Regions from separate parts of the Homo sapiens genome. Here all the other regions are linked to region 1. Evidence: fine-mapped expression QTL. A gene starts in region 1. Each other region holds a variant in brackets. All regions are shown on one strand. Distances are between the middles of the regions. Region 1 holds the start of ADAMTS17 (ADAM metallopeptidase with thrombospondin type 1 motif 17). Region 2 has its middle 200 kb from the start of LYSMD4. Region 3 overlaps ADAMTS17 (ADAM metallopeptidase with thrombospondin type 1 motif 17).

Evidence for each region.
Region 2: its variant is fine-mapped to the expression of ADAMTS17 in whole blood (INTERVAL, PIP above 0.99).
Region 3: its variant is fine-mapped to the expression of ADAMTS17 in left ventricle (GTEx, PIP 0.93).

The regions. Positions count from the first base shown.
Region 1 is chr15:100,337,051-100,347,396 of GRCh38, reverse strand. ADAMTS17 (ADAM metallopeptidase with thrombospondin type 1 motif 17) reads left to right here and starts at 5,422. Exons shown (of 22, transcript NM_139057.4): 1 at 5,422-5,576; 2 at 5,988-6,358. The coding sequence starts at 5,498. It overlaps SPATA41 (spermatogenesis associated 41), which reads left to right. Exons shown (of 2, transcript NR_028139.1): 2 at 1,770-2,940. RefSeq lists an enhancer at 6,570-7,088.
Region 2 is chr15:99,925,218-99,935,563 of GRCh38, reverse strand. No RefSeq gene overlaps it. Among named protein-coding and RNA genes, the nearest start is that of LYSMD4, 200 kb to the right of the region's middle. RefSeq lists a silencer at 7,125-7,184 and an enhancer at 6,906-7,200. The variant G/A (reference allele first, on the strand shown) is at 4,661.
Region 3 is chr15:100,229,273-100,239,618 of GRCh38, reverse strand. The region is part of intron 7 of ADAMTS17 (ADAM metallopeptidase with thrombospondin type 1 motif 17); the gene reads left to right. Among named protein-coding and RNA genes, the nearest start is that of ADAMTS17, 110 kb to the left of the region's middle. The variant G/A (reference allele first, on the strand shown) is at 4,857.

The sequences.
Region 1 (10,346 bases):
AATAAGTCACCATCAACTGCAGCAGAGGCAGCTGTTTGGGCTTCACAATTTGCGGAAGCACATGCCAGCCTGGCTCTGTTTTGTGCTTGTTCACAGTATATGGCTTTGGCCTTGTTCAGCATCAGGGAGTAGCTGTTCCTTGGGTCATGCATGGAGTTGGATTTAACCCTGGCTTTCAGCTGGCCAGTCCTCATCAGGAGCTTGGGCAGGAGAAATAGTACTCTGGTGAATGGTCTGAAGACATTAGATCATAGATGACCTTGGCTGCAAGCAACTAAATCCAGACCACAACAGTTTATCCAAATAGGGTTAACCAAACAAGTACAATGTGTACCCAAATGATATCAGTGTCCCATGATCCTTCCATCATCCACTGGATGATTTCTTAATTCAAAGTCAAACAAAAACAAAAGCAGATTTGAAACATTCTCATCCATCCTTGAAACTGGATCACATGCCATGGTCTCGCTCTTTGAAGTGGTCAACTGAACAGCTGGATACATGGTCTGGAGCTGGGAGGAGGAGTGCCTTAGTCCATTCCTGCTGCTATGACAAAATAGCTTAGACTTGGTAATTTATAAATAATAGACATTTATTTCTCATTGTTCTGGTGGCTGGGAAGTCCAAGGTCAAGGTGCCGGCAGATTCAGTGTCTGGTAAGCTCTCTGTGTCCAGGATGACACCTTGTTGCTGCATCTTCTGAAGAGGACAAATGCTGTGTCCTCATATGGCAGAAGAGATGCAGGGCAAAAGGGCCAAGAAGCCCTCTTGAGCCTCTTTAATGAGGGCATTAATTCCATTCATGAGGGCAGAGCCCTCATGACTTTGGGCCTTAACCCAAAAGGCTCCACCTCTTAATACCAGCACAATGAGGTAAGTTTCACCATGAATTTTGGAGGGACATAAACATTCAAACCGCGGCAAAGAGTCTGGACCAGGGGATGACTCTGTGAAGTGCGTGCTTGTCCACTGCCAAAAGAAAGGGATAAGATGAGGAATGCGAAGCTGAGAAGGGGAGGGTTCGAGATCAGCACTGCATTGAGAGAAAGGGGAGTTGGGCAGAGGAGTGTAGTAGCAATGGTGGGCATGGCGATGGCTCAAATGAAGAAGGTGATTGCAGATTTCCCTGTTGCATGCTTGGCTCCAGTGGTGTTCAGAGCTCAACCACATGCTCAGTGAGAGTAGAGAGTTGAGTTTACCCAGGCCTGTAGTTCTGCATGACAACTGCAGTGAAAAGGGATAGGGGAGGGTGCTGAGCATATTGGCAAGAGTGTTTTCAGAGTCATGGGGCCTGGAATGCAAGCTGGATATGGAGGCAAGTGAAGAGAGGCTGGTGGGTTGGGAGATGCAGACTGAGAGACCTTCTGAGGTAGGAGCATTTGGACGAGCATGCTGGGAGGACAAGAAGCTGTGGTCAGAGGTGGATGTTCAAGTTTTGGAAGGTGGAACAGCTAGGGGTGATGACAAGGTGTAGGGTGTGAATTTGAGAGTGGACAGTTGGGGCAGCATAGCACAGAAGGTCACTGAAGGAGGAAATTGAGGAGCCCAGAGCCCAGGGTGGGGGATGGGAGTTGTCTATATGTGTGTCTGTTAGGGGTCGAGTTTGGCTGCATATAACAGACAACCCAAATAGCAACAGCTTAAAAGAGACAAGAGTATATTTTTTTTCTGATATAGCAAAAAGTGCAGAAGTAGACAGCTCAGGTCTGGCATGGTGACTCCAAGATGTCATCAGCAACCCAGAGTTCATTGATCTTTTTGCTTCCCAGGGGTCTGGCACTCTTCCTCATGCTTACGAGATGGCTGCTGGAATTCCAGGAATCACATGCAAATTCTAGTCAGGAGCAAAGAGGAAGAGACACAGTGAAAAGGGGTATACAGCGGCAGAAGGAAGCTCCTCAAATGAACTCTGCTAGAACTCTAGCCAGTAGCTTCTCCTTCTATCACAGTGGCCAGAACTGTGACAAGTGACCATCCTTAGGGGAAAAAAGATGCTGAGAAATGTGAATTTTGTTGCCACCTTACATTTTCAAAGGAGTTCCATTCGTAAGTACAGAACGCTCAGAGAAGAGGCAGCAGATCTAGGATATGGAGCAGCAGCTCTTAAGGGCACAGTGGGAAGGTTTCAAGACTGAGGAGGATCTTGGATTTGGGTAGGGGAAGGCAGTTCACAGTATTGTGGAGGAAATGCTGTGAAAGAGAAAGTGGAAGGCATGGAAGCTTAAACTTTTAATATGACTGGTGAATACAAGGATGAAGGGCAAAGGGAATTCAGACTCATGGTGGTCAGATTAAGACCTTCAGCGGCTCTGTCTCCCAGCCCCACATACCCACTTCCATGTTCTGCTCTTTACTGAAGCTGAAAGTCTGCAACCTTCATTCTCTGACTCCCTTACATTTTCTTAGGCTTCTTGCTAGCTTCTGCCAAAAAGAGGCCCTGGCAGGAGATTAGATGGCAGGAGGCAGAGGTAAGGATTCCATGTTAACAGGTGCTGGAAGTTGCTGGTGTGGCAATGAGAACTGGGCCCCGGTCAAGGCAGCACTACTTTGGTAGATCCAGAATCAACCATGATAACCGTGACAGTGTCTTCAACAGTGCAGCAGTAGACACAGGCCCCTGGTGCTGGAATCCAATACAGGGACAGGAGCAGCACGGAGTCACGGAACACCGTCTTGCCTTCATGTCACTTTACCATTTCTTCTTTCTCCCTCTTACTCTACCAGCTACCTGTGGAGATGTTGAACCTTTTATCTGTCGCTGTCTGCTTAGGAACAGAAGAAAAGGCAGCTGATTGCTTGACTCAGCTTTCAGCTTGATTTTTTTCCTTTGGCAGAGTGAATTGGGGTCCCAGGTGTTCATTTTCCTTTTGTAGTACCTTTCCTCAGCATGCAATTAATACAAAAAGAACAATAAACCTTAACAAAGTTTGGCTTGTATTATTCCAGACTTTCCTCTTGGATTTTATGTACACTTATCTGAATCCATGCAGATCATGTCATGTGTGTCTGTGTGTTTATACACATTTTTTTTTCGGTGTGCCTCATTCTGCAACTTGATTTTTTAAAAAATTCGATAACTGATCTTGGAGATCTGTCCATGTTGTTACATATATGAGATTTTTGTATTTCCTTTAATTAATGGTGTTCAAGTAGCCGTTTATGTAACGATGAACATTCAGGTTTTTGCAATTTTTTGCTCTTAATAAGGTGCCCTGGTGAACAAACATTCTTGTACATGTGCCAGAGTTTCTCTGGAGTAATTAACCAGCGTGGAATTACAGAGTTGTAGAATGTGTGCATTTTTAGTTTTATTAAAACTAAAAAGTAAAACTTTAATTTTACAGTTTGCCCAATTGTTCCTCAGAGTGGCTGTGCCAATTTATACTCTCCACCCCTAGGTAGGAGAGTGTCCTCTCTAATTCTTGATTTTTCTAAGCTCTTTAATTTTGGTTAGTTGGGAGATAAAATAGTATCTTTCTGTTTTAGTTTTCATGTCCCTATGGACTAATTTTAGCATTTGAGCATCTTGGATAGGTTCTTGATAGGTTGGTGATGGCTACTTCAGGCTGACTTGCGCTTGTGAGGTGGTGTGGCCCATACTCCATGGTTTTCAGTGGCAGGCCTTAGAAATGGCTCTTTTTGACAAAAAGATTCACTAAGAAACTTACTGTGATATCTTTAAAAAAATTAATATTTTGTGAGTACGTAGTAGGTGTATATGTTTACAAAATGTATATACATGAAATTTTTTGATATGGCCATACAATGAGTAATAATCCCATCAGGGTAAATGAGGTGTCCATCACCTCAATCACCAAGGTTTCTTGTGCTGCCAGAAAATGCTACTGAGCTGTCAGTCATCTGAGGTTGTTGACCTGGACAGAGGCAAGGGGGAGAAACACAGCCCCAGGCCTGGCCAAGAGCAGGACCTGTGCAGATGCCCCCAGAACTGTAGGTGCCAAGCAGTGAGGGCAGCCCCTTTTGTGGCAAGCCTCTGTGGAGGGTCACTGTTCAGCCTTGGGGTTCATTATATTTCGGGGAAGGTGGCCAGTGTTATAGATTCCTTCAGATGATATGTAATCCTGTGATGAATTTAGATTCCGAGGCTTCAAGCAGCATCCAGCGGGGAACTATAACCTTTCTGCTATGATAAAATGGAAAAGAGCAGGACAGGGAAGGGACGGGAAACCTGAGATTGGTTATGGTTACACTTAATTGTTTTTTTTGTTTTGTTTGGTTTTGTTTTGTTTTTTTGAGATGGAGTCTTGCTCTGTTGCCCAGGCTGGAGTGCAGTGGCACAATCTCGGCTCACTGCAACCTCCACCCCCCGGGTTCAAGCGATTCTTCTGCCTTAGCCTCCCGAGTAGCTGGGACTACAGGTGTGCGCCATCACGCCTGGCTAATTTTTGTATTTTTAGTAGAGACAGGGTTTCACCATATTGGCCAGGCTAGTCTGGAACCCCTGACTTCGTGACCCGCCCGCCTTGGCCTCCCAAAGTGCTGGGATTACAGGCATGAGCCTCTACAAGATGCTATTCAGCAAGCTAATGGAGTCACCTTCCCTGCAGACCTCAGTTATATTGTGGCAGGAAAGGATCAACTCATTCTGTTTCTGGGAGACTCACGTTCAAGGCTAGGCTTTGGGACTTTGTGCCTCCGTTTCCTAACCTGTAACACTGAGTCCTGCTTCCCTCGGGGCGGGGGGATCCTGCTGTTAATAAGAAGCACCAAGCCAGAAATCAGGATCACAAATTCTAGCCTCTGCTCCAACAGGAACTCTCTGGGTAACTTCAGCGTTTTTCCTTAAGCTCTCTCTCTTCCTCAGTTTTTCAGTCTGTAAGAGGGTGTGAGCATGCGTGTTGCACTGGCTCCTGTGGGATTAAAGAAGACAGGAGGTGTGAAGAGTTTGGATAAACGCCGCGGATATAGCCTTCAGGTGCTAACTCAGGTGTGCGGGAAAGTGGACTGGGAGTCTTTGCGGCCACAAACAACTAAAACCTAACTTCAGATGTAAAGATTATATGCAGTTTTGGATGAAACCGCTTGGCCGGGGCGATTTCCGCCCTACCTTCCCGGGAAACTGGGCAGCAGGCTGAGAGAGTTCCAAAATGAGGACAAGCTCTGAAGACCAGCCCCGCATCCTCCAGCTCTTCCAGGGTCCCACGGCTCCGGTCGGCTCCCGCGCGCCACCTGGTGCCGTGTCCCCGCCACTGCCCAGAAACCACGTGTAAGAAAGCGCTGACAACCTAACTACGCACTGTGGTTTCGACCCATCCCAACCAGTAGGGAAGGAGGAGGCGGGGCGGAGGAAAGCGAGGGCCCAATCCCCTCCCGCCTTCCGAGGGGAAGGCGGGGCTTGGGGTTTACCACGTTGGGTTTGTCCGCAGCGCTAATTACTTTTTCCAAAGGCTGGAGGGCTTCACTCCGGCTGGCGCCGCCGCCTAGCGCGCTCCTGCTTCGCCGCCACGGTCCGGGGGGGCTGCCGGTCCCGGGTACCATGTGTGACGGCGCCCTGCTGCCTCCGCTCGTCCTGCCCGTGCTGCTGCTGCTGGTTTGGGGACTGGACCCGGGCACAGGTAGCGCCCCCTCCCACAGCCCTCTTCACCCCGCGTCCTGCGGCTACCTTCCCTCTGCGTTCTCGCGGCGTCCTGGCGGCCCGGGGGCGGCGGCGGGACCGCTGACGGCGCCCGAGCGGAGGAGGCGCGGGCCGCGGCCGGAGTACGGGAATCGGGTGGCTCCGTGGCAGGCGCGCCGCCGCCGGGTCTCCGCTCGCCGATGCGCGGCGCCGTTCCGGGAGGTGCTCGCGCGGCTGCGCCGGAGACCCTCCCCGGGTGGCGCGGGCCAGCGTGGAGGTGCCGGGCGAGGGAAGGGAAGGCAGCGCCGGCTCCGGGTCGCGCTGTCCCCGCGCTGGCGCGGCTGGCGGCCAGCGGGAGGGCGGGCGTCCGGGCGGGCCCCGCCGCGCTGACGCGTCTCCTCTCTCCCCGCAGCTGTCGGCGACGCGGCGGCCGACGTGGAGGTGGTGCTCCCGTGGCGGGTGCGCCCCGACGACGTGCACCTGCCGCCGCTGCCCGCAGCCCCCGGGCCCCGACGGCGGCGACGCCCCCGCACGCCCCCAGCCGCCCCGCGCGCCCGGCCCGGAGAGCGCGCCCTGCTGCTGCACCTGCCGGCCTTCGGGCGCGACCTGTACCTTCAGCTGCGCCGCGACCTGCGCTTCCTGTCCCGAGGCTTCGAGGTGGAGGAGGCGGGCGCGGCCCGGCGCCGCGGCCGCCCCGCCGAGCTGTGCTTCTACTCGGGCCGTGTGCTCGGCCACCCCGGCTCCCTCGTCTCGCTCAGCGCCTGCGGCGCCGCCGGCGGCCTGGTACTGCCCGCGCCACCTCCGGGTCGGCCCGTCCGGTCTGTTGCGACGCAGAGTGGTCGCCGTGGAGGGTGGGGGTGGGGCGCCTCTGCTGGAAGTCCAGCCTCCAGGGGAACCGGAGGGAACCCCCTGCCTTTCCACCTCTCCCCATCCCCCACCCCGGCCTTCGGTACCCTCTATAGGCAAAGGGGGTGGGAGGGGCAGCATCCCAGTCCAGCGCCTCTGCAGCCCGTGGAACCCGCGCGGAGCTGGGGTTGCGTGGGGTATACGCCGCCCGCTCTAGGGAGCGCAGATCTGGCAGGGATGAAACTGTCAGGGCCCTGGACAGAGGCGCCTTGGCCCCAATGTAGAGAACACTGCATCTGCACCGCCGTGTCAAAGTGTATGTCACGGGAGTACCTGTGTACGTGTAGGTGTTATGTTCTTGGACTTGGAGGTGGGGGAGTGGGCATTCACCTCCCTTCCTTTTGAGTCTTCTCTCTGTACCTGGAACAGGAAGTTTGGAGAGGTACCCAGACAGGCCACGGCTCACCCCACTCTTCCTAGCTGAAACGTAAGAAACAGGAGAGAAAGGGTGTTTGTCTTTGCTTCCTTATACTATTAGTAGGCATTTATCTGGTGCCCACCCCCAACCAGGCCTGAGGGGTGTTTACATTGGTGATAAACCCTATTCCTGCCCCCAGGAGCTCCCTTGCTGTGGCAGTAACTTCCCTGCCCCGAAGTTCCTGGCCTGTTGCATTTGAGGCACCCGGAACAGGTGCTCCCAGGGGGAGGGGGGGTTCTTGTGTGCACTTGCCCTGCCTGCGCGCACACTTGATCATGTGGCTACACTGGCGCCCAGACGAGCACTCAGCTTCTCCATCGTGCCCCGAAAGCCGCACACATGGCCGGCAGATGGGCTGCCCCCAGCGAAGCTTGGTATGGACCCAGAGCATGAACCGCAGGGGTTCTCTGTCTTCTGTCATGACTGGCCTCTGGGGAGGCAGTTTCTGATATTAGTTTGTGTCTGTCCTTCCCAGGCACAAGAAACTGCTCCCCACACCTCCACCTTTTCTTGTGCCACCATCTAGAATTCTCCAGCCCTTACTCACAGAGTCTGTGGCGAGTCCTCGAGAATCTACGAAGCTAGAAGGCTGGGGGTGCAAGGTCTTATGTGAGACCTCTCTTTCTTCCCAGTCCTGCGGGTATCTCTGTGTGTAGTTTCCTAGATCAGTCTGGCTCTCCTTTCAGGAATTTTCTGAGTTCTGATTAGGGTATGATAGACTTTTGCTCAGCTGGGAAAAATAGGCAACTTTGGTGAAACAAGGAAAGTGATATAGACCCTTGGAGGGGGCCTGGTAGGAAGGAGCTAATGTGGACCTGGGGCGGGGAATGTGGACCTGGGGCGGGGAATGTGGACCTGGGGCGGGGAATGTGGACCTGGGGCGGGGAATGTGGACCTGGGGCGGGGAATGTGGACCTGGGGCGGGGAATGTGGGTTGTAGGCAAGGAGGCTTAAGTAGGAGTGAGAAAGGCTCAGATCACTGTAGGGCTCGGGTCAAGGCTGTATCATGTTCTGGGAGGGACTGGAAGGGCCACATCATTTTTCCTGTTTTTGCCAAAGTGTTTAAAGTCTAAGTCACATCATTGTACTGTACATGGAAACATCTGAATCCCATTTGCTGCGGTTTAGTGAGTTTCTGTAGAGGTCAGAGTTTATACTTCTTGGTGTAAAGTTTCCAGCAAGGAGCTATCTGTGAAGGCGCCGAGGTGGAAAGCTGGATAACATTGATTTAAAATCCTTGCAGAATGAGGGCTGGGCCCTGTCATAGATGGCATCTCAGCCAGCTTCTCGGCAAGACTGTCCTTCCCTTTAGCACCATGTGAGGGTGCTGTGCTTTAGATAAAGGAACCTGGCCAACAGGCTGAGTTCAGTGTGTGCCAGTGGCGGTTGTACCTCTAAGACTTCAGCTTTTAAATTCCTGCCGGAGCAGACACTTCTGTTGTTTAGTCTGCCTTGTTCATCCCGTTCGTGTGAGCTGGACATTGGACACTTCCCCCTCTGTACGTACTGAAGGCCGGAGGGAAGAGACAGTGGGGTGACTTGGAGGTGGACCCTTTGTTTGCAAGGTGGTCCTGAAAGCGTAAAGAAAAGAAAGCAACAGGAATTTGGGCTAACCAAGTTTGCATTGCAGACTAGCTTTGACTTTGGTTCTCAGTTCAGGTGGCTGATGATGTTGTGTTAGTCCCTCTTGACTGTGGTACTGTGGTAGAAGCTCTGTGAGTGGAGATGTGGAGTTGTGTGTGTGTGTATTTGCTACGACAGGCTCGGCTATAAGGTGTGGGAAGGGAGGCTATAAGTAGATGATTTTTGGTGGCCATGGAGGAGGGGCATTTCGAAGTGTCCTTGTATCTAAAAATGAGCAAGAGTCGGGCAAACTTCTTCTCTTAAGGACCAGAAAATAAATAGTTTAGGCTTTGGGGGCCACATAGCCTTTGTTGCAGCTGCTCAAAGCTGCCCTTTCAGTGTGAAAGCAGCTACAGCTACGGATGGCATACGAGCGAATGGATGTGGCCACGTTCAACAAAACTTCGTTCCGGATGTTGAGTATCATGTTAATTGCTGGTAAGTCCCACTGTATTGAACATCTCCTAAAGGGCTCAGTAGAGAGTGTTGAGTGCCTGGGCTGGGGGCACACACGTTCTATTCCATGTTGCATGGAATCTGTGCTGTTTGTCTCCAGAGATGTTTGCTGTCTGTTTAAAGGAGACGAATTATTAGAATAGATCATTCCGTAGCTGTTTAGGGGCCATGGAGAGTAAAGCACCTGTTCCATTTTTGCTCCTTTTCCTTTTGACAGCAGATAGAGGCATGGGCCTGCCGCATTCCTTTCTTGGTGTCTTATCCTGAAAAGCTGGGCCAGCTGCGCCTTTTGGATCTTCAAAGGCCATAGACTTAAGTATTAATTGTTTTCTGTTTATGCTTCTTCATTGTATTTACATTTCCAAGAGTCTTTAGAGCATGGGTTTTTTGGAAGTGTTTCTATGAGCATATCATTTCAAAGCATGAACTTCAGGTGTCTGAGGAAGGCCTTTACACTCTTCGTGAATTTATGTAAGTTCGGATCAGCTGCCTCTGTGATCAGGACTGGATCGTGGAAGGCCAGTGGAATTGGAATCAGGCTGAACTTCATAGGTAGACAGGATAGCGGAGAGGGCACTTCAAGAACAGCATGAGCGTCAGGCTCTGAAAAGAATCTTTGCAGCTTGTCTGAAGTGAGTGGCTGGAGGACTTGTTTTAGGAAGAGTGAACGAGAGGAGGGGAGGGCTGGAGGCCCCCTGCTGTCGGGTTTGGTCTGCCAAGCAGTGGCCATCCTTTCTTGGATGATACTCACAAAGCTTGGGAAGGCCACCCACTGGAATGTGTCCACCCCTTCTTGGAAAAAGCTGTGGCCTGCCAGGGGCACACTGTGAGATGGTGGGACCAGACAGACCACCAAGGAGCTCTGGGCTGCAAAACATTAAGCCATAACCGCGTTCCAGGTCACCTTGAAGGACTGTGAGAAGGTCAGGGATCCACGTTCCAGGCCACCTTGAAGGACTGTGAGAAGGTCGGGGATCCTCCTACCATAGCTCTTCTGTTGCCACAGCCACATGCTGTAGGACTCTTATTTGGAATCACTGGGGTCAGTCTGGTGGCCCAGCCCACCTCACTCTGACTGGTCAGCCTGACTGCAGACCACGTGTCCATGTTGGTAGCACGTCATTTGTGGCACATGGGACATTCATAGTTCCGTACAGCTATTCCAGTCCACTTGAGAACTTTAGAGAATGCATACCTCTAATTTATAGGGGAGCAAGTGTAGTCCAGATAAGAATAGATGGGGGCAGCCAGGTGCGGTGGCTTACGCCTGTAATCCCAGCACTTTGGAAGGCCGAGGTGGGTGGACCAGCAGGTCAGGAGCTCAAGACCAGTCTTGGCCAACATGGTGAAACCTCGTCTCTACTAAAG
Region 2 (10,346 bases), 410 kb after region 1:
ATTGGCATAATTTTTTAAGAAGAGCTGTGGTTCCTCAAAATAGCTACTTTGGAAAGCAGTGTACCTAGCATATTAGTAAGGATATAACAGGCTTTGCTGCAGGAACAAATAAACCCACATCTCAGTGACTCATATCACACCCAGTGCTGGCTGACTAGCTCTCCTGGGCAATTTCTCTGAGTGGTGACTTTGGGATCCAAGCTTCATCTTGTGACATTGCCATGTAAATATATACCCACTGAGGTCACTGTGGAAAGGCAAGAGAGAATGGATGATGGTTCAAGGGAGGTTATAGCTGGCTTGAAAGTTGTACACCTTACTTCCTCCTGCACCACAATGGCCAAACTATGGTCATATAGCTCCAATTTAATTACAAGTCATGCTGGAAAAGTCTTCCAATGTGCCCAGGGAGAGGAAAGTGAAATATGATTTGGTGAGCCCATGGCATTGTCTCTGTCCCAAATCACCCATGAAGGAAGGTCGAGGGGAGAGAGAAAGAAAAAGAAAAAAGAAACCAGCTACTGCTCAAACTTGTAGAGATCCTCTTTGGCAAATATTTTCATATGCAGTTGAAAAGAACAAATCTTCCTAACTCATAATTTTGTTTTTTGGGCTATTGACACCTTCAGGACTCACTCATTAGGTCCACTGCCTGCCAGTTACATTCCCTGCACTCCCCACACTCTTGGCGTATCTCAGTCACTCCTCATATTGCAGGTTATCTGTTTTATGTCTGTATCTAGGACCCATTGTACTCATTTCTTTACCCCAACTGGTAGCAAAAGCCCAGCACATACTAGATGGCCAAGACAAGTTTTGGGACCACGACATATGTAACCTAGTTGAGAAACACTAGGCAAACACCTCAAGAGCAAGCACAGGGTCTTATTCTGGCAACTTTGCAGTGTTCAGCACACCATAGGGATCATTTGACTGATTCTTCTCTGGCCCAACCAAAGCTAAGCAGCTGCCAAGCAGGTATGGTCATTCATCCATCCATCATTTGAGGATCAACTTTCTGCCAGGCACTGAGCTAGGTGCTGTAGATTTTAGCTTGGCCATCTCTAAATCGGAGAGCTAATGAAGATGCTGAGCCTTCACCACTCAAAGAGATCCTCTGGTGTCATTTGGGAAGAGGGAGGTTGCCCTGGAGCAGTCACCACGTCTCAGAGTCTGTTCTTAGAAGGCAAAGGGGAAGAGTTCTGCTCTAGACCTAGCCAACAGTTGGTGCTGTTGGTGTGGATGGGAGCAGAGGGAGGGGCTGGCCCTGTGATCACAGTTTTGCCCATGCTTTAGTGATGAATAGTGCGTATCCCTTCTCTGCAGCTGACATTCACTTCTTTAGGGCTTTAACTGCTCCTTTTCCTTCAGGGGCAGAGTCAACCAGTTGCTCAGTTCATGGTGTGCTAGCACAATTTCTCCATGTGAGGTCCTGCTCCTACTGTGCTTTACTTTATTCCTCTTTATCCCAATTCTCCACTCCCACCTTTGCACATTCATCCCTACTGTTGCATTTAATGTTTATCTTTCTTTTTCTCCGCACACTTGAGAAACCTGACAAGTTGATTGATAGGTATGTATTTTCAGGTTCCTACAAATGATGCAGTGTTAGAGATTTTGTCCTGCTTCTTACTTTTCTCACTCACGCTATTTTTAAGGCTGTAGCCACAGTGATGGGTGTCCACCCTGTTTGTGGCTGTGGGTCATCCATGTGACAATCTCATTTTACTCACCCATTCCCCAGTGATGGATGCCAGCCTCTAACTCCACTGTCCCCAAACAATACTGTGGTAAATCACTTCTCGGTCGCTTTGTGTGCAAGTCTTTGGGACATATGCCCAGGAACAAAATGTCTAGCACTTGAATGATACAGGTATCAATGTCACTAAGCAGAGCGAGATCCCCCTCTACAATGGCTGTACTCAGCTACCTGTCAGCCAACCACGTATGGAATATCTCAACCTTCACATCCCTGTGGCTGGCGCAGGCTCAGAGAGAGGCCAGTGTAGCTCAAGGTCTAGAGTTATCAAGGAAAAGCCATCGTTCTGAGGTCCATCTCCTGAAAGGCGGCCTCTCCTGAGTGTCATCCTGTCTCATCTTTTCCTCACCCCGGGTCCTCCCTGGTGGATATGGTTCTCCTCCTCATCCCCCAAACTTCTCATGCCCCAGCATGGGCCACCCCACCACAGACTTGGCATCTGGGGTGGGTGGACAGGAAGGGGGGTGGACTGGCCTACCCAAGGGGCAGAGCATTGGCCTTGGCAATTTGGTGCAGGAAGACAGGATCCAGGAGGGAGATGAGCTCTCACCCCGGATACGCGTTCAGAAGCAGCATTCAAGTTCCCCCTCCCAGTTTTTCATCCGATGCTCACCACGCCCCCTGGGTAACCGGGATGTGTAAAGTTGAAGAACCCCCACTCCCAAGTGAGGTGATTTGCCTCAAGGAGAGGCTGAGTTGAGGCCAGAACCTCCTTGGCTTTTTGGACATTCAGGACCCAGTGGTACAGGGGTGGGGGTGGGCCGCTTGCTCCCCAGAGAAGAGAGGGAGGAATAGAGAAAGGGGAAGAGGAGCCAGGCCAGCAACTGCAGATAAACAAGGATATTCCCAGGGCTCAGCCCCAGGGCACTTGAAAGCCAGCAGCTCAGGCAGAGGCTGTGATGGGTCCCCCAGCAGAGCTTCAGTGAAACACCACGGTGTCACCAGTCATTTGTCTCCCTGGCACAGGGCCCACTCATCTACTCTTGGCTTGGAATGAACTGGTTCCCCAGAGGAGAGGCTATCTGGCTAATTGTGCACAAACACATAGAACTTGCTGCAGTCAAGACCTGCGTGCCGACCCCACCACGCCGGCCAGTCCAGGGTCATGTGGCCGCCTCTTCACCTCCAGCAAATGAAGCTGGTACAGCTGTTGGCAGAGCCAGAAGGGGTACTTTCTAGGCACATACCTGCCCCTAGGATGGGAGGCCTTTGTATACATTTTTATTGTAGATGGGGTCTGAGACAATTTTTCTGTCCCTACTCTGGTGTCCACGGACTGTCACACCACCACTTCTGCTTTCAGGCAGAAAACCACCTCCCAGCAGGCTCCCACTGAGGACTCTCGCCTGACCTGGAAACCCCTGCTCCTCTCTCTGCTGCCATCTGCCTCAGGGAGAGTTGGGCTGGAGGAGGGAGTGGAGCAGTGGGGACAGGAAGTCCCTCGCTAGACTCAGCAAAACAGGGACCCTTGGCTTGGGTGGGCAGCTTTCTGCAGCCCCCTTTGTTTCCACCTGGAAACGTTGATTTCCCCAGTTGGACACTCAGAATCTCAAATGACATCAAGGCCACAAACAAATCTCTCCTCCTCTGCAGGGCATTCTTTTCACATGCCCTCAGAGCATGACTGAGCTTGGAGGAATTCTGAGCCATGGTTGGTTTGCTGCAAATGGGCATCGTCAGGTGTTCCTGTAGCCAGGGAAACAGGAAATGAGGACAGAGGAGAGGGGATGCCAGTAGAGCTTTGAGTCCTCGGGTTCCAAGAGGGGAGAAGATGGATGTGGCATGCGTGTCTAGGGCCCAGGCTGAAGGCCCTGAACGGCAGAGGAGACCGGGGCTACGGGGTCACGTCATGGAGCAGAAGGCCTGTGCACCAGAACGCACCATGAGGCCACCATCTGGGGGTCCACAGGGGCAGCTGAACCTCATCATGCCTAGGGTTTCTGGTCACCTCCTACCTATGCAGAGCTGTGGACAATAAGCTGGACCAGCAGTTACCACCCGAAAAGCAAGAGGAGAGCTCACCACAGTCATGCCTTGCCAGCCCCTCTTCCTGACCCCAACATTAGAACAGCAAGTGCCAAGAAGCAGGAGAGTCATGTGCAACTGCCCCTACCCCACTCTCCATCTATGGAAACACTAGGTTTAGCCTGCACTAGGTGGAGAAGGGAAGAGAGATTGACGTTTCAAAATGAGCTATCAGGGGACTTCTATTTACAGCAATATGAGAAACTAGGTAACCTGAAAGGCAACACCCACCGCAATATGCTCAGAATTGCTTGGTGCAATAGAACAGACTCTAAATGCAGAGTTCAACAGAAAGTAAAGGCCAAAAGATGAACTGGGAACCAACAATTAGGTATACAACTTCATGATCTCCCCACCCACCAGGGCTGGCATCCTCTCACTAACTCAGGGGCTTGGATTGTTTTGTTTTGCTTTTCGAGACAGAGTCTCACTCTGCCACCCAGGTTGGAGTGCAGTGGCACAATCTCAGCTCACTGCAACCTCCACCTCCCGGGTTCAAGTGATTCTCATGCTTCAGCCTCCCGAGTAGCTGGGATTACAGATGTGCATCACTATGCCTGGCTAGTTTTTATATTTATTTTTAGTAGAAATGGGGTTTTGCCATGTTGACCAGGCTGGTCTTGAACTCCTGGCCTCATGTGATCCACCCAACTTGGCCTCCCAAAGTGCCAGGATTACAGGCGTGTGCCACCATCCCTGGCCTAGGGACTTGGGTTTTAATGCTGTGAGGAATTGGAGAGGAAGCCTTGGACCTGCCCCACAACACTCATAAATGAGGGGTCCTTCAAGGGCAGGATGCACTCTCAGTAATCATCATCTAGAGAAAGTTCCCCCACTGGCAGTTATGTCAGGGATATTAGACCTGGCCTGGGCTCT[G/A]AGTAGGGAAAATGATTCTCCTATCAATTTGTCATCACAGGCCCATACTCATGTGATGGGATTAGGCTGTATATGACATGCATGGGCCAGAAAATCCCCAGGTCAAAACATTGGTATGCAAAGCAGTCCTGGGCTGGTGATAACGCCAAGCACCTGGCTGAAGCAAACCCAAAAGCACTCTGGAGGCACCCACTCTCATGTAAGGTACAGAAGATTCCAATAGATGAAGTCCCCATTAAGACCAGCTCACAATCCCAAATTACAAAACACTGGCAACTCCAAGTCAATAAACTTCAGGGATGGAAAGCCAGTAGAATGATCAAAACAGAGCCTACAAGATAAATTGGCTTAAAATTACTAAAGACCTAAAATGAGAAATAAAAACAGAAAAAAAGAATCAAGATACATGAAAAAATAGGTAAATTTTAAAAAGTATTTCCAGAAAGTAAAATTTTAAAAATATAATTACTGAAATAATAGAAATACCTCTGCAGATGGGTTACCGCTGATTCTCAAAGTTTATCACACCTGAGGATCCCCTGGAGGGCTTCTTAAACACAGACTGCAGGGCCACCTCCAGAGTTTCTGGGGCAGGGCCTGAGAATTTGCATTTATAAGAAGTACCCAGGTGAAGCTGCACTGATGATCTGGGGACAACGGGTTAGCTGATTAACTCTGGCCAAAGACAAAATTCTGACTGACCAAAAGTAGTTGACAAGTTAGTGAATAAAGTTGGGTTATTTTAATAGGTCTTCTATCCAGGGGAAAGGAGTTTCAATCAGCACACAGTTGAAAGCAGTAACTGAGAAAAATAAAACCATGTCCACGTGCATGTTTCAAATACACTGTCAGGATTTTCAATAGTCTAAGTAGTCTGTATCTTGTCCAAGGTTACAAGAGACAAAGAACATTATATATTGAGAAGAGATTCAATACAGCAAGAATAAGTAGTTATAAACATTTAGCACTTAACAGAATATGCAAAGCAGAAAGGGAGCGAATTGGAGGGAAAAGTAGTTCTACAATAATCGTCGGAGACCTCAGTCCCCCACTTTCAATAATGGAAAGAACAACCAGACAGAAGATAAGAAAGGAAATGAGAGGACTTGAACAACACAGCAAGCCAAGTGGACCTAACACACACCACCAGGCCCCCAGTGCATTTCAGCTGAGGCCTCTGGACACGAGGCCCACGACAGGTGTCTTAGTGGGCCCACGACTGCTGTGACAAATTACCACAAACTTGCTGGCTTCCAACAACACACGTTTATGATCTTACAGTCCTGGAGGTCGAAAGAGTAAAAAGAGGTCTCACTGAGCTGAAATGAAGCTGCTGGCAGGGCTGCGTTTCTTTCCGGAGGTTCGTTGGGAGAACCTAGTCCCTTACCTTTTCCAGCTGCTAGGCAGAGGCCGCCCTGTTCCGTGGCCCGTCCTCCATCCCCAAAGCCAGAAAAACCGGGCTGAGACCTCCTGGTGCTGTCGGCCTTCTCTGTTCTCTGTTCTCTCTCTTTCTTTCTCTCGCCTCTCTTCCTTATAAGGACAGGTGATTGCATTGGGCCCACCTGGGTGACCCAGGCTAATCTCCTTACCCATTAAGCTCCCCATCCTCAGCCTTTTCTTCTGTCAGATGGAGAATATAATCCCCTAGTTTTAGGGAATTTTGAGGAATAAATCGGATTACTAAACTGTGAGTTCCTTGAGTCAATAAAGATTAACTGAGCACTTACTGTGTGTAAGGCAACTTTCCTAAGTGCTAGGGATACGACAGTGAACAAAACACACAAAAATGCGTGTTTCTGTCTGTGTGTGCAATTAATCTACCTTAATTCCATCCGCAACTGTAATTCCCTTTTGCCATGTAAGGGGACAAATTCACAGGCTCTGGGGAGTAGGATGTGGACACCCTTGGGGCGTTTATTCTGCCTTCCGCAGTGGAGGACTGCAGACGCTGTGGGCGAAATGTTTGGAGCTGGTGCCATTAAAACCCTCTGCAGTTCCCGCTCAAGGTGCAACTCTCAAGTACTGGCACCTGGGTTTGCGGCCACGTGAGGCTCTGAGCAGCATGGGCCTTGGGGACACTGAAGATATCAGAGGCCCTAGAGGTATGTGTGGCTTCCCAGGTTAAAGTTGGCACGGAGAGAGAAGAGCGTGGCAAGTCAGGCAAACCCGGTGAACTCCCTTTGTCAGCCTTCCTTCCGTCTGCCACAAGGAAGGCCTGTACCAGAACCCAGGGCCTTCTGGGCTGAGAGGCCGCAGCCTGCATTGGAAGGCCACTGAGTCACGGACGTGGGAAGATGACCATCGGTGTCCGAGACGCGAGTATAAAGCCAGGCGCTGCCACTCACCAAGCTGCGCGATCTCGGGCGAGCAGCGCTTCGCCAGGCTCGGCCCACGGCGACGCCACAGTGCCACCTGCCGGCCGGACGCCCTCGCTCGCGCACCCCGCCCTCCTCACTCGCGCACCCCGCCCTCCTCACTCGCGCACCCCGCCCTCCTCACTCGCGCACCCCGCCCTCCTCACTCGCGCACTCCCCCGCCCTCCTCACTCGCGCACTCCCCCGCCCTCCTCACTCGCGCACTCCCCCGCCCTCCTCACTCGCGCACCCCGCCCTCCTCACTCGCGCACCCCGCCCTCCTCACTCGCGCACCCCGCCCTCCTCACTCGCGCACCCCGCCCTCCTCACTCGCGCACTCCCCCGCCCTCCTCACTCGCGCACTCCCCCGCCCTCCTCACTCGCGCACTCCCCCGCCCTCCTCACTCGCGCACTCCCCCGCCCTCCTCACTCGCGCACCCCTCCCTCCTCACTCGCGCACTCCCCCGCCCTCCTCACTCGCGCACTCCCCCGCCCTCCTCACTCGCGCACTCCCCCGCCCTCCTCACTCGCGCACTCCCCCGCCCTCCTCACTCGCGCACCCCGCCCTCCTCACTCGCGCACTCCCCCGCCCTCCTCACTCGCGCACCCCGCCCTCCTCTCTCGCGCACCCCGCCCTCCTCACTCGCGCACTCCCCCGCCCTCCTCACTCGCGCACCCCGCCCTCCTCTCTCGCGCACCCCGCCCTCCTCACTCGCGCACCCCGCCCTCCTCACTCGCGCACTCCCCCGCCCTCCTCACTCGCGCACCCCTCCCTCCTCACTCGCGCACTCCCCCGCCCTCCTCACTCGCGCACTCCCCCGCCCTCCTCACTCGCGCACTCCCCCGCCCTCCTCACTCGCGCACTCCCCCGCCCTCCTCACTCGCGCACCCCGCCCTCCTCACTCGCGCACCCCGCCCTCCTCACTCGCGCACTCCCCCGCCCTCCTCACTCGCGCACCCCGCCCTCCTCACTCGCGCACTCCCCCGCCCTCCTCACTCGCGCACCCCGCCCTCCTCTCTCGCGCACCCCGCCCTCCTCACTCGCGCACTCCCCCGCCCTCCTCACTCGCGCACCCCGCCCTCCTCTCTCGCGCACCCCGCCCTCCTCACTCGCGCACTCCCCCGCCCTCCTCACTCGCGCACTCCCCCGCCCTCCTCACTCGCGCACCCCGCCCTCCTCACTCGCGCACTCCCCCGCCCTCCTCACTCGCGCACTCCCCCGCCCTCCTCACTCGCGCACCCCGCCCTCCTCACTCGCGCACTCCCCCGCCCTCCTCACTCGCGCACTCCCCCGCCCTCCTCACTCGCGCACCCCGCCCTCCTCACTCGCGCACTCCCCCGCCCTCCTCACTCGCGCACCCCGCCCTCCTCTCTCGCGCACCCCGCCCTCCTCACTCGCGCACTCCCCCGCCCTCCTCACTCGCGCACTCCCCCGCCCTCCTCACTCGCGCACCCCTCCCTCCTCACTCGCGCACTCCCCCGCCCTCCTCACTCGCGCACTCCCCCGCCCTCCTCACTCGCGCACTCCCCCGCCCTCCTCACTCGCGCACTCCCCCGCCCTCCTCACTCGCGCACCCCGCCCTCCTCACTCGCGCACTCCCCCGCCCTCCTCACTCGCGCACCCCGCCCTCCTCTCTCGCGCACTCCCCCGCCCTCCTCACTCGCGCACCCCTCCCTCCTCACTCGCGCACTCCCCCGCCCTCCTCACTCGCGCACTCCCCCGCCCTCCTCACTCGCGCACTCCCCCGCCCTCCTCACTCGCGCACTCCCCCGCCCTCCTCACTCGCGCACTCCCCCGCCCTCCTCACTCGCGCACTCCCCCGCCCTCCTCACTCGCGCACCCCTCCCTCCTCACTCGCGCACCCCGCCCTCCTCACTCGCGCACTCCCCCGCCCTCCTCACTCGCGCACTCCCCCGCCCTCCTCACTCGCGCACCCCGCCCTCCTCACTCGCGCACCCCGCCCTCCTCACTCGCGCACCCCGCCCTCCTCACTCGCGCACCCCGCCCTCCTCACTCGCGCACTCCCCCGCCCTCCTCACTCGCGCACCCCGCCCTCCTCACTCGCGCACCCCGCCCTCCTCACTCGCGCACCCCGCCCTCCTCTCTCGCGCACCCCGCCCTCCTCACTCGCGCACCCCGCCCGGCAGTGCGGCCCGCACCCGCCCCCTCCCGAGCACCCTGGCGCGCACTTAGCCAGTACCTGCGCGTGCACCTCGGCGTTCAACGCGGCCTTTGCGGCGGCTCTCCCCTTGGACCTGAGGCTTCCCGCTTCGTTCTAGAGTGAAGGCTGGAAGAGCCCAGACAGGAAGGTGTCAGCTCTGTCCCACACCCAGGTGGCCTGTGCTGTCCCTTAAGTACAGCAGCAACAACGTCACCTGGGGAGGAAAGCTTCATGGAGCTCACCAGATTTGCAGGGGTGAAAGATGGAGGGAGGAGGGGAGTTGGATTCCTATACTAGTTTTTATCTGGATAACTTCTGAGCCAAGCACAGCTTTGTGAGCCTCTAGAGACCCCCTAACCTACTTGCATCAACTGGACATAAAGAGGGGAGCCCAATAGCAACTGCATCCATTCTAAAACCAAAAGCTACTGTTATTCGCCAGGCATGGTAGTAAGTGTCCTATGAGTGTTAATTCATCCATCAAACATTCTTTGAGCTTCCCCTCTGAGCCAGATCGTGTCTAGGTGCCTGGGATGCAGAGGTAGCGAACGTGCCCACACAGGCATACACACGCATTCCTATCCCCTCTACTTCGTCGGCGCTGTTGTTTGACATAGGAATTACTACCACCTAAAACACTATATATTTTACTTTATTTTTCTTATATTATTGTCTGCTACCACACATGTATGCCTGTGGACATCCACACCAACCCCCACACACACACAGACACATTTTTTGTGTGTTTTGTTCACTTTTGTATCCCTAGCACTTAGGAAAGTTGCCTTACACACAGTAAGTGCTCACTCTTTATCAGCTCAAGGAACTCACGATTTGGTAATCTGATGTATTCCTCAAAATTCCCTAAAACTAGGGGATTATATTGTTCATTTGACAGAAGAAAAGGCTGAGGATGGGGAGTGGCCTGCATGGACTGATTCAACTCTTAGCAGTGGAGATGGGAGGCAGACCCAGGTCTGCTGATCCTAAATCCTGTCCTCTGAGTGTCCCCCATAAGCTAATTACTGGAGAAAGCAGAAAGAAAAGAAACCACTATTATCAGCATTGCTTTTCATTTTATTAATCTGAAGAGTGAACACAGTGAAAGCAGGCAGCTACATGTTAGCTGTAGACTGTAGACCACATCTGTTCAAGAATCCCTCCGAGATC
Region 3 (10,346 bases), 110 kb after region 1:
CCGTCTCCAACACTTCCTCCTGCAACGCTGGAGAGAGACCCCCTTCTCATTGCTTCCACAAAGGGTAGCCTCTTCTTGCTGCTGCCCCGCTCAGGGGCATCCACACAGTCCAGCATCTCACAGGCCTGGGAGCGGTGCCGAGATCTGCACCTTCTTTTCCCTTAGCCTTGGAGAGCTGAAGAGCGTTGCTTTCAGCAGGGTCGACTGCGGTATCCCTGCACCAGTCATTATTGACAGGTAGGAAAGACCACAACCAGCGCCGCTCCTCATCCCGTGCTTGCAGGAGTGATGAAAGTGAGACTGAGAACAGCTACCATCTGCTGAGAACGTCATGGTCTTGGGTCATTTAATCTGCACAACAGTGTGCGGGAGCTGCTGCTGTTCTCTCCATTCTGCATGTGGGAAAACCGAGGTGCAGAGAGGGAGATGTCTTGCCCGAAGGCACACAGCTTGTAAGCAGCCAAGCTAGGCTCTGACCCCAGGCGGTTGGGTTACAGTCTTTCCTTTCTCACATTTCGTTTTCTTTTTTGAGACGGAGTCTCGCTCTGTTGCCCAGGCTGGAGTGCAGTGGCGTGATCTCGGCTCACTGCAAGCTCCATCTCCTGGTTCAAGTGATTCTCCCATCTCAGTCTCCCGAGTACCTGGGGTTACAGGCACACGCCACTACGCCTGGCTAACTTTTGTATTTTTAGTAGAAACAGGGTTTCACCTGTTTCAGGTTGGCCAGGCTGGTCTTGAACTCCTGACCTCAAGTATTCTGCCCTCCTGGGCCTCCCAAAGTGCTGGAATTACAGGTGTGAGCCACCACGCCCTGCCTTTCTCGCTTTTCGATAGCATTTTAAGTGAGGCGTCATTATTCCTGTGAGCAGATGGGGAAACTGAGGCTCTAAAAGAATACATTTCTTGTCTGAAATTATGCCACTCGCGAGTGACAGAGCTGGGATCAAACTATCTCACAGCAAAGCCTGAGGGCTTAACTCTGGTCTTGTCTGCCAGACCTGTGCCCATTCATTTTGTTCTTGGCAGGTATTAAATTCCCATCGTTGCTTTTACCCTGTGTTTTCTCCTTTGCTGTGTCCATCACAGATTCTGTGTTCAGGACGGATCTTTGTCCTCACCGACATTCTGCTTTTCCGTCATTCATACTCAGTAAAACTCTATTGAGTGCCTACTGTGTGCCAGGCCCGGCTCCAGCCCTGGGGACACTCAAGGCACCAAACAAAGGCCGTTGCTCTTGTGGGGTGATGTTTTACTGGAGGGGATGCAACTCATGTGAAGTCAGTAAGTACACTCTAGAGTGTGGATGGAGGCTGGCGATAAAGGGAACATGGAAAGCAGATAAGAAGGGTGGGAAGTGGAGGGGCTGGGACCTGAAATTTTACCTGGAGTGGCCAAAGGCTTTGCTGAGAAGGTGACATTTGGACATTACACTCATGTGCAACCCGTTTGCAGGCCAGGGCCATTAGAAGTGTTGAGGTTGCCTATGCCAACACTATTAATTTCTGTGAGCAAAGGCAGGGTCCCCACCATGGACAGCAGGGTGAGTGGCTGTCCCACAGTGGGAGCAAGCTGGGTACCCTTGGGCCCACTCCGTCTTTGCTTCTTTTTTGCAGGGCTCCTAATCAGACCTGGATTTGAGTCTTTCTTCTGCCATTTCCTTGACCTTGGGCAAGTCACTTAAGAGACTTAGTGTTGGCCGGGCACAGTGGGCTCACACCTGTAATCCCAGCACTTTGGGAGACCGAGGTGGGTGGATCACCTGAGGTCAGGAGTTTGAGACCAGCCTGGCCAACATCGTGAAACCCTGTCTCTACTAAAAATATAAAAATTGGCCAGGCGTGGTGGCATGTGCCTATAATTCCAGCTACTTGGGAGGCGGAGACAGGAGAATTGCTTGAACCTGGGAGGCGGAGGTTGCACTGAGCTGAGATTGCACCATTGCACTCCAGCCTGGGTGACAGAGCGAGACTCTGTCTCAAAAAAAACAAAAACAAAAAACCTCAGCGTTCCTCCTTTCCCTACTTGTGTATTGAGACAGCAGTGTCTTCCCCACGGGACTGCTGTGAGGCTTGCCCATCGAGTCCCTCCTGCACAATGCCTGCTCTGTGAAGCTTGTCCTTGTGTCTGCTCAGCCTGCCCCAGGACATCATGCCCAGCCACCCTCTTCCTGTCGTCGTGTGGATCTCCTAGGGAGGGTGCCAGGACAGAGCTGCTCAGCCAGGGCAGGGCTGAGGCTTCCCAGGGGTGAGTCCTAATGTAGGTAAAGGCAGGGAAGTGAGACCCCAAAAGCAGTTAAAGCAAAGAGCAGAAGCCCAGGGGCCTGAGGCTTACTGAGGGAGAGCCTCCTGCTTGCCTGGTGCCGTCCTCAGACCTCGGCCCTCACATGGAGTCGCCTCCTGTAGGCGCCAGTTCACAGATGAAGGTGCTGAGGCTGGGCTCCTCACCGGGCTGCATAGTGACACGATGGTGGAGCTGGGAGGAACCTGGCTGGCCCGACACCCCAGTTAGGCTTGTGCTGAAAGGGTAAGATGTTGCAGGGGCAGGGTTGTGGGGGCCTGAGGAATTTGGCTTGCAGCTTCAGATTGGAGTCTGAGGATCGTGGGAGCTACTCCAAGTGAGCTGATCTCATGTTGTGCAGAGATGAGAGGAGAATTGAAGCTGGGAACCATGGGATTCAGCCGTAGAGTTCCCTCCTGTGACAGACCCATTCCTGGCTCTGTTTTGGGGGCAGAGGAGAGGGAGCATGGAACAAGTAGTTGGTATTTCTTTCTTTTTCTTTAGAGTCAGGAGTCTCACTCTGTTGCCCAGACTGGAGTGCAGTGGTGCAGTCATAGCTCACTGCAGCCTCGACCTCCTGGGCTCAAGCAATCCTCCCACTTCAGCCTCCTGAGTAGCTGGGACAAGAGGCACGCACCACTATGCCCAGCTAATGTTTTTATTTTATGTAGAAACAAGGTCTTACAGCGTTTCCCAGGCTGGTCTCAACCTCCTGGCCTCTAGTGATCCTCCTGTCTCAGCCTCCCAAGCTGCTGGGATTACAGGAGTGAGCTACTGCCGTTTTTTTGTTTGTTTGTTTGTTTTTTGTAAAGATTTAAAGAGGGTCCATGTTAGCTGTTCAGTGTTAGTAAGAGGGCTCTGTAGATTTACATGCCTCTGGATCACATGGAGGACTCCTTTAAACATAGCCGGCTGGACCTCACCCCAGATGTTTGCATTCGGTGGGCCTGGGCAGGGCTATGGATGCTGGTGGTGCTGGTGTGGGGACCACACTCTGAGAAGCCCTGCCTTATTGTGGCTGGGGGTCTTCTCTTGTTAGGGTTTTTTTTTTTTTTTTTAATGTCGTGGGTGACATGAATATAGGGCACCTCTCTCAATGTAATGTTTACTGTCATTTCATGATTACTTGTGCAAATATCGTAGACATTTACTTTTTTTACAAAAAGCAGTGATGATGGAAATTTCCGAGTTACTTCCTGTGTTCTCTTGCTCTGAGTCTGTGCGACTCTGGCGTCTGACCCAAATTAGAGATGGTAATTGAGTCACTGGTGACTGTGGATGTCTGTGATCATTAGGATATTGACTGTCATGCAAGGAATCGAATTTACCCCAAATGTTCAGCCACCTCATCAGATTTTCCATAAACTTGATGTTGGTATTTAAGAGAGGCAGGAGGAGTTGTGGTTTTGAGCCTGGCCTCTGCCTGGTTCAGATCCCAGCTCTGCTACCTTGAGTACAGCCTGGGCAATTTACTTGTCCTCATGTTTCCATTTCCTGATCTGTGGATTGAAGGTAATAGAATGAGGTAAAGGGCCCAGAACTCATAATAAATGCCCCATCATCATTGGCTGTGTTGTTCTTGTTTCAGTGCCCCCAGCACCTTTTGATGTCAGAGAGGGCCCTGGAAGTCCTCCGTGGTGGTGTTTGGGAAGAGAGCTCCCCGAAGCGAATGGTTCTCAAAGGGTGATCCCAGACCACAGCATCAGCAAAACCTGGGAAGGTATGAGGAATGCACATTCTCAGCTTCCTCGGGGTCCTTCTGGGTCAGAATCTCTGAGGTGATGCCGAGCATCTGTGATGTGGCAAGCCTTCCGGAGATTCTGACACACGCTTAATTTTGAGAACCACTGATCTGAGTCTTGGTGGGCAGCACCTGAGACAGGAGGGCATGGATGACACCTGAGAGACGGGAGGGCTCAACTCTACTGGCCGTATGTGTGTGCATGGTGTGGGGTGGTCGGGGAGGTCAGTGTGGGGAGGATCTTTGCATGCTCAGGAAAGCCAGGTGCCCAGCAGCTGTGTAAGTAACCAGGGGGCCAGCACTGCACAGGCCCTTGCCTGCCACCAGCCCTACTGACATTCTTCCTAGAACAAGCATGACGCATGGCTTTTCTAGCACATGGAATCCTGGTCACACCACTGCTGACAGAAGAGGCTTCTGATAAAGGCCATTTCTCCCTTCCGTTTCTCCCCGAGCACCTCCTGCATCCTATCTCATCGTGGGCCCGCGTCTGCCTTCCTGTTCTCGAATCGCTGAGGCAGGAGTCATGGCCCAGCACTATTTTCCCTCTTCCAGTGGCATTCTGGGGTTTTATTCCGTGAACATAATTACCTTGTTTTTCTTCTTAAGCCAATTCAGCTTATTCATGCCTCTTCCCTCATGTTCCCACTGCCTTTCTCTTGTTTGGTTGCACAATATTCCAGATATTTTCTATTGTCTCCTCTACCCCGTGGTTACAAAATCAAACAGGACAAAACAGCTGTGCATAGGCTGTGGAGGGGGCGCCTTGGGAGAAGCTGGGATGGCCCCTTCCTTTCCACCCTGGCTCAGCTGCTGATGGAATGGAAGGTTTCCCGGA[G/A]AGGCAGCAGTCAGAGGAGTGGTCGGGGAGTCCCTGGGGCTGCCTTACGGGCTGGTTGCAGCGTTTCCTCTGCCACAGAGCTGCGAATGCCAAGGTAAACATATGTTTTGAGATAAAGTGGAAACCCCAGGAGGTTTTCATCCTAGAAGAGGAAGCAATAAGACAGTCACGTGTTGGACCAAGGAGTCGTTTTCCCCCAAACCCAGCTTTGCGCACCCTGTGTGGGAAAGTTGGAGGGAATTGGAAAAGCAGGGATTATGGATGGGGCCAATGAGACAGGTCACAGAGTGCAAGAAGGGGCTTGAAGAGGCAGCTGGCTCTGCTCCTTCCCAGTACATGACTGTGGGCCCGTATCCTTCATCTTCCTTACTGGTAGCATCAGGACTGGACTACCATATGCCAGGCGGTGTCCTGGGGATCAAATGTGGAACGAACGTAAAGCATTTGGCACAGTGCCTGTCTGCCTCGTGGAAAACGGTGGCTGCGAGTTTTATTAGCTCTTTCTAGTAGTCGACTGGCTGTTGTACTGTCTTTGTTTCTGAAGGTGCCCGATACACACTTCTAATCCATCTGCAATGCCTGTCCACTCCACCTTCAAAATATATTCCCGATCAGACCTCTTTGAACCACACCGGCCATTCCTCCCACGGTCCAGGCCTGTGCTGCCCTTGCCTGCTGGGTCTCCTCCCTGCCACGGAGCTTCCTCTTCAACAGTTTTTTCTTACATGACAGGCAGAGGGTTACTTTTAAGCCCCAAACCAGATCCTGTGGGTTCCCTGCTCAGAATCTTCTAACAGCTTCTGAAGACACTTAAGATAGAACTGACAGAACAGTAGGGCGCCCAGGACATGTGGCCCAGGGTTCTCCTGCCAACCTCTCTTCCTGGTGCTCACTCCCGGGAAGCCACCTCTGCCTCAGCCTCCTCCTTCCCTTGCCAGGCTCGCCTCCATCTCCAGCTTGGCACCCATAATCTTCCTGGGCCCGGCACACTCTCCCCCTGACATCTCCATAACTCGCTCTCTTCCCACCGTTAGGTCTCTGTTCAAGAGCATCTCCTCAGAGAGACAGAAGCGGCCTCTCCATTTAGTTTTCAGTTATTGCTGGACATTGCGTGTTTCTCTGTCCTTTGCCTGTGTGATGGGAACACAGACCCAGCATCTTCACGCCCCCACTGTGTTCCCATCGACTGCACATGAGAGATGCAATGAGTTTTATTAATACAACTGATTTCACTAATCAAAACATTTAAACATATTTTTCGAGCTAATAAAACTTGCCCATCTGCCCTGTAATGGTATTTGGAGAGATGAAGGACTCAGGACACAGTGCTAGGGAATTTCCAGTTCCGTTTGTGACTCCTGTTGACCATCTTAAAAAACGGCGACTTATATGACTTTTCAGTGAGTTAATCTTCTGTATTTTTTTTTTTTTTGAGATGGAGTTTCACTCTTGTTGCCCAGGCTGGAGTGCCATAGCGCAATCTTGGCTCACTGCAACCTCTGCCTCCTGGGTTCAAGCGATTCTCCTGCCTCAGCATCCTGAGTACCTGGGGTTACAGGCGTCCGTCCCCACGCCCGACTCATTTTTTGTCTTTTTAGTAGAGACGGGATTTCACCATGTTGGACAGACTAGTCTGGAGCTCCTGACCTCAGGTGATCCACCATCCTTAGCCTCCCAAAGTGCTAGGATTATAGGCGTGAGCCACCGCGCCTGGCCTCTTCTGTACCATTTAACACCCTTTTTTATCTGTGCAGTAGGTAGAGGAACCTCAGATTCAACCCATATTTACTGAATACCTCAATACTCTCCCTTTAAAAACTGACATGGGGCAGTGGACCTTGGAGATTCACGGCGTCCCTCCTCTGGGGTGGAGTGTGAGATGGCCTCTGCCTGTGAGACCTGCTGCAGTGGAATCGATCTGCGCCGCCTCCAACCGAGACCTGAAGACGCAAATTCCATGGTGTCAGTGTGAAGAACTGTGAGGAGGCAGTGAGAGGAGGGCCTGGGCAGGGTGTCCCGCATGGGCCAAATGGCCAAGTCACTCCTGCTATTCAGGAAACAGGCTTGGTGGGGTCACATAACTTGTCCACTGACACAGGAAGACTTCAGTTCTGGTGACTTGGTGTCCTGCACTTACCGCCAGAGCCCTTTGTGGCTGCCCAGCGTGAGACCTTCGTTGCCATCAAAAGGAGGGGAAGGGAATAGCCGATTGGGCATCTACGTCCCACCAGCGTGTTTCATGTTAAGAAGAAGGTGGGTTTACTGGGAGGATGTGTCACCTCTCTGCATGACTTGATGTGAGTCTGGGAACACCAAGTGTTCATTCCATGTCTGGCACTATTTTCATCTCCATCAGGCTTTCAGAGCCCAGGGATGATGGGTCGATACCCGGGACTTGAACCTCACATCTGCCTTGAGGGGAAGGAGAGGAGTTGGGGAGGTGCTGGCAGGGGGAAGCCCACCTCCCACCCTGGCTCCATGCTGCAGGCAGGTGTCCTGCCCGGGTGGATTGGCTTCCGCTGCTAGGCCAGGGTTAGCCTAGTTCTGGTGAGGAAAGTTCTCCATTCTGAGCCTTGTAATGAAATCTAGAGCTGCCTCTGGCCAGGTATCCCCAACCCAACCCAATTTTTCTGCCTATCTCATTGGAAGTGTCAATTTCTTTATTACTTCAGCTGAGGGAAAACAGGTCTTGACACTAAGACAATTCAAGTGGGGGCAAGGTCGCCGTGATTCATTTTTGTTACTCTGTTGAGTTCTAGAGTAAGTATAATTCACAAGTAAAATGAAGGTTCAGGAATTAGATGTGGAGACTAAGGACGATGCCAAGATTTATTCTATGTCTGTGCTCAGCCTAAATTGGGCTCAAAAGGAAGAAAAAGGATGAGGAATTACTACACATTATTCGCTTCTCCTGAGGATGACGGTAAGATGACCTAATACAATCAGGGGCGAATCTGAGGCCAGAAAATGCATACCCAAAGCTCAGAAGGAGGCAACAGACCATTGAGACCCTTTTGGACAAGACTGAGTGAGTTCAAGAAAAACCGGCACCTGACCAGCCAAGTAGGTGATTCCAAACTCACTCCTGCCCTGAGAACCCTTGGACACACCAGGAAATTACACATTGTGTGACATCAGCTTGGGAGAAGGCCTTTTTATCCCAAGTCTGATCAGCTTCTGTAACACTTAGAAAAAGGATTTGATTACAGGCGGTCAGTGGAGAAGGAAACAGATCACCATCAGTAACTGGCCAGGATTCTTTTCTTCCTCATTCATGGTCCCTGTCAGGCCAGCGAATGGGAGGTGCTGATGTTCCTGTGGGAAGGCAGTTATCCCCTGTGGATTCCAGTGGCTGGTTTATGAAATAAGAAGCTTATGCACACTGGGAATTGTCTTTAATGAAATGAGAATTAGCCAGAGAGTTAGACATAGGGGTCATTGCCAAGAGGAATTAACACTGAAGCCTCAATTAAAATTTCCACTGGATTATCTGATAAGTAGTTGTGCCTTTGGTATTTTATTGTCTTTGACAAATGGCATGAGTTCAGAATTTGAAGCAACGTAGGCCATAACATAACACGGTCCTGAAAATAATGAGGCACACCATTGCTAGATACAAAGTACTTAAATTCCCTGATGGAAGTATTTATTTTAAAGACTGCTTTGGATTATCTTCCTCCCAGGATGTGCAGGCGCTCTCTCTGTGTTCTGATGGGGTTGCCAACTTCACAATTCCTTTTGGTGCCAACAGAGTTCTCAGCACCAGGTGGAAAGGGTGGCTGCCTTCCAAGACATACCTTGCTTTATTGCTAATCCCTCTGTCTCCTCCCCCCGTGGGCTGTTCTTGTCCCCTGGCTGCTGGGAGACAGAGTGATGGCTTCCTAATTGGGTCCCCAGGCAGTCCCAACACCTGTTTCAGGAGGTGTTTGGTATCAACAGTGGACATGTTTCCGAAGCTAGGTGTGTGTGTGTTTAAATTCATTTTTATAATTTTGTTTCTTCCAAGCATTGTCGTTACCCACTATTGGTGCCTTCATTTAAACAATAAATGCTTTCATTCAAAATGCAATACTTCCTAAGCTTTTGCTGAGTGATCAAACCCGAAAAAAGTGTTAAATGCCAGTCACTCCCATCTCAACCCAGTGGTCAGGCCTGAGATAGCTGTTATGAAGATGCCTCAGGACAATTAGACTTTTCAGGAACTTTTCGGCTATGATGCCATTGCAATTTGCAGACCATCCCAGTCTAACCCCGTTTCCTCCACCCCTTGCTCTCCTTGCACCATTGCTGGCCTCAGATCCCTCCCTGCTGTGAGGTTTGGAATTAGCTCGTGTGTCTATGGCATGGATGACTTCTCCTCCAACTCTGTACCAGCCAGCATCTGGAAAGAGTTATACACAGGAATCTGTTACTATCTAGCCTGCCCTCAGCCCTGGATGCGCATCTGATGTGGAGACCCACTGGACGCTCTGTAGAATGTGGAGTTCTCTTTGAAGGTACCACAAAGATAGGGGTCTGCAAGTGTGGCTTTCGTGCACCGCGGGTGTCATTCGTGACGTGTTTGTGCTCTTCTGCAAGCCCAAACTGCGGAGAAAGTTTAACTGAGAAAACCACTTATTCTGAGTTGTCTTCTCAGTTAATATGCCCCTGGTTATGTTTAAGTGCCCGGTGTTGGTTATGCTCGTGCAGCTTGGCCAGGAAACTTCTAGGACTTCAGCATGGGATGGGTGGTTGGCAGTGGGGGCAGAGTGAGTTGGAGCTAGTTGATGTGCTGTGGGTGCATCCTCCTTAGCTGTGAGGGAGGCCAACACAGGCAGGCTTTCCCTGCACTGATCATCTCAGGTGACTGTGTGGCAATTTCCTGCTGGTCAGGGAAGGTGCTGTGGCCTTTCATCTTGGCTCTGTGTCCACCTGCTCACTGGAGCTCCATACTTCACCACTGCAAGAGAGTTGCCCTTGCGTTCTCTGTCTACACTTCAAAGGAAGATGTTTGCATTTGGTCAGGGAGAGGGAACTTTGCAGTTAGTTCTCCTGAGGCTCTGTGGGTGTTTTGTTGTGGGAGGAGGCGTGTCAGCATCTTCAACGGATCATGTGACCTTTGAGTGGTTGCCTCTGGGACATCATATGATTCTTTGAGGTCAACAGAGGGTGGATCCTTTGGACTGCAGCCAGGAGACTGGGTCCTTTTTAGTTTAGCGGGACCAGCCTTGCTGTGGTTCTCAGTCCAGAGAGAAGACTTCCTGAATGTGAAGTGAGCATCCAGGTCAACAGGCAGAACCACTGTGCGTCATAGAACAGAAGCCACTGAAATAAGAGTGATTGTCCCATGGACCAAGACATCAGCAGAGATTTGTAAGGCAGGAATTTGCAAGGGAAGGCATCAGCAACACTCATGTTTCACGTCAGAGTTGCAGGGCAGGATATTAGATAAGAGGCCTGGGAGTCCAGTCAATGGTCACTTCTGTCAATGTGGGGAGGGGGTGGGGAGAG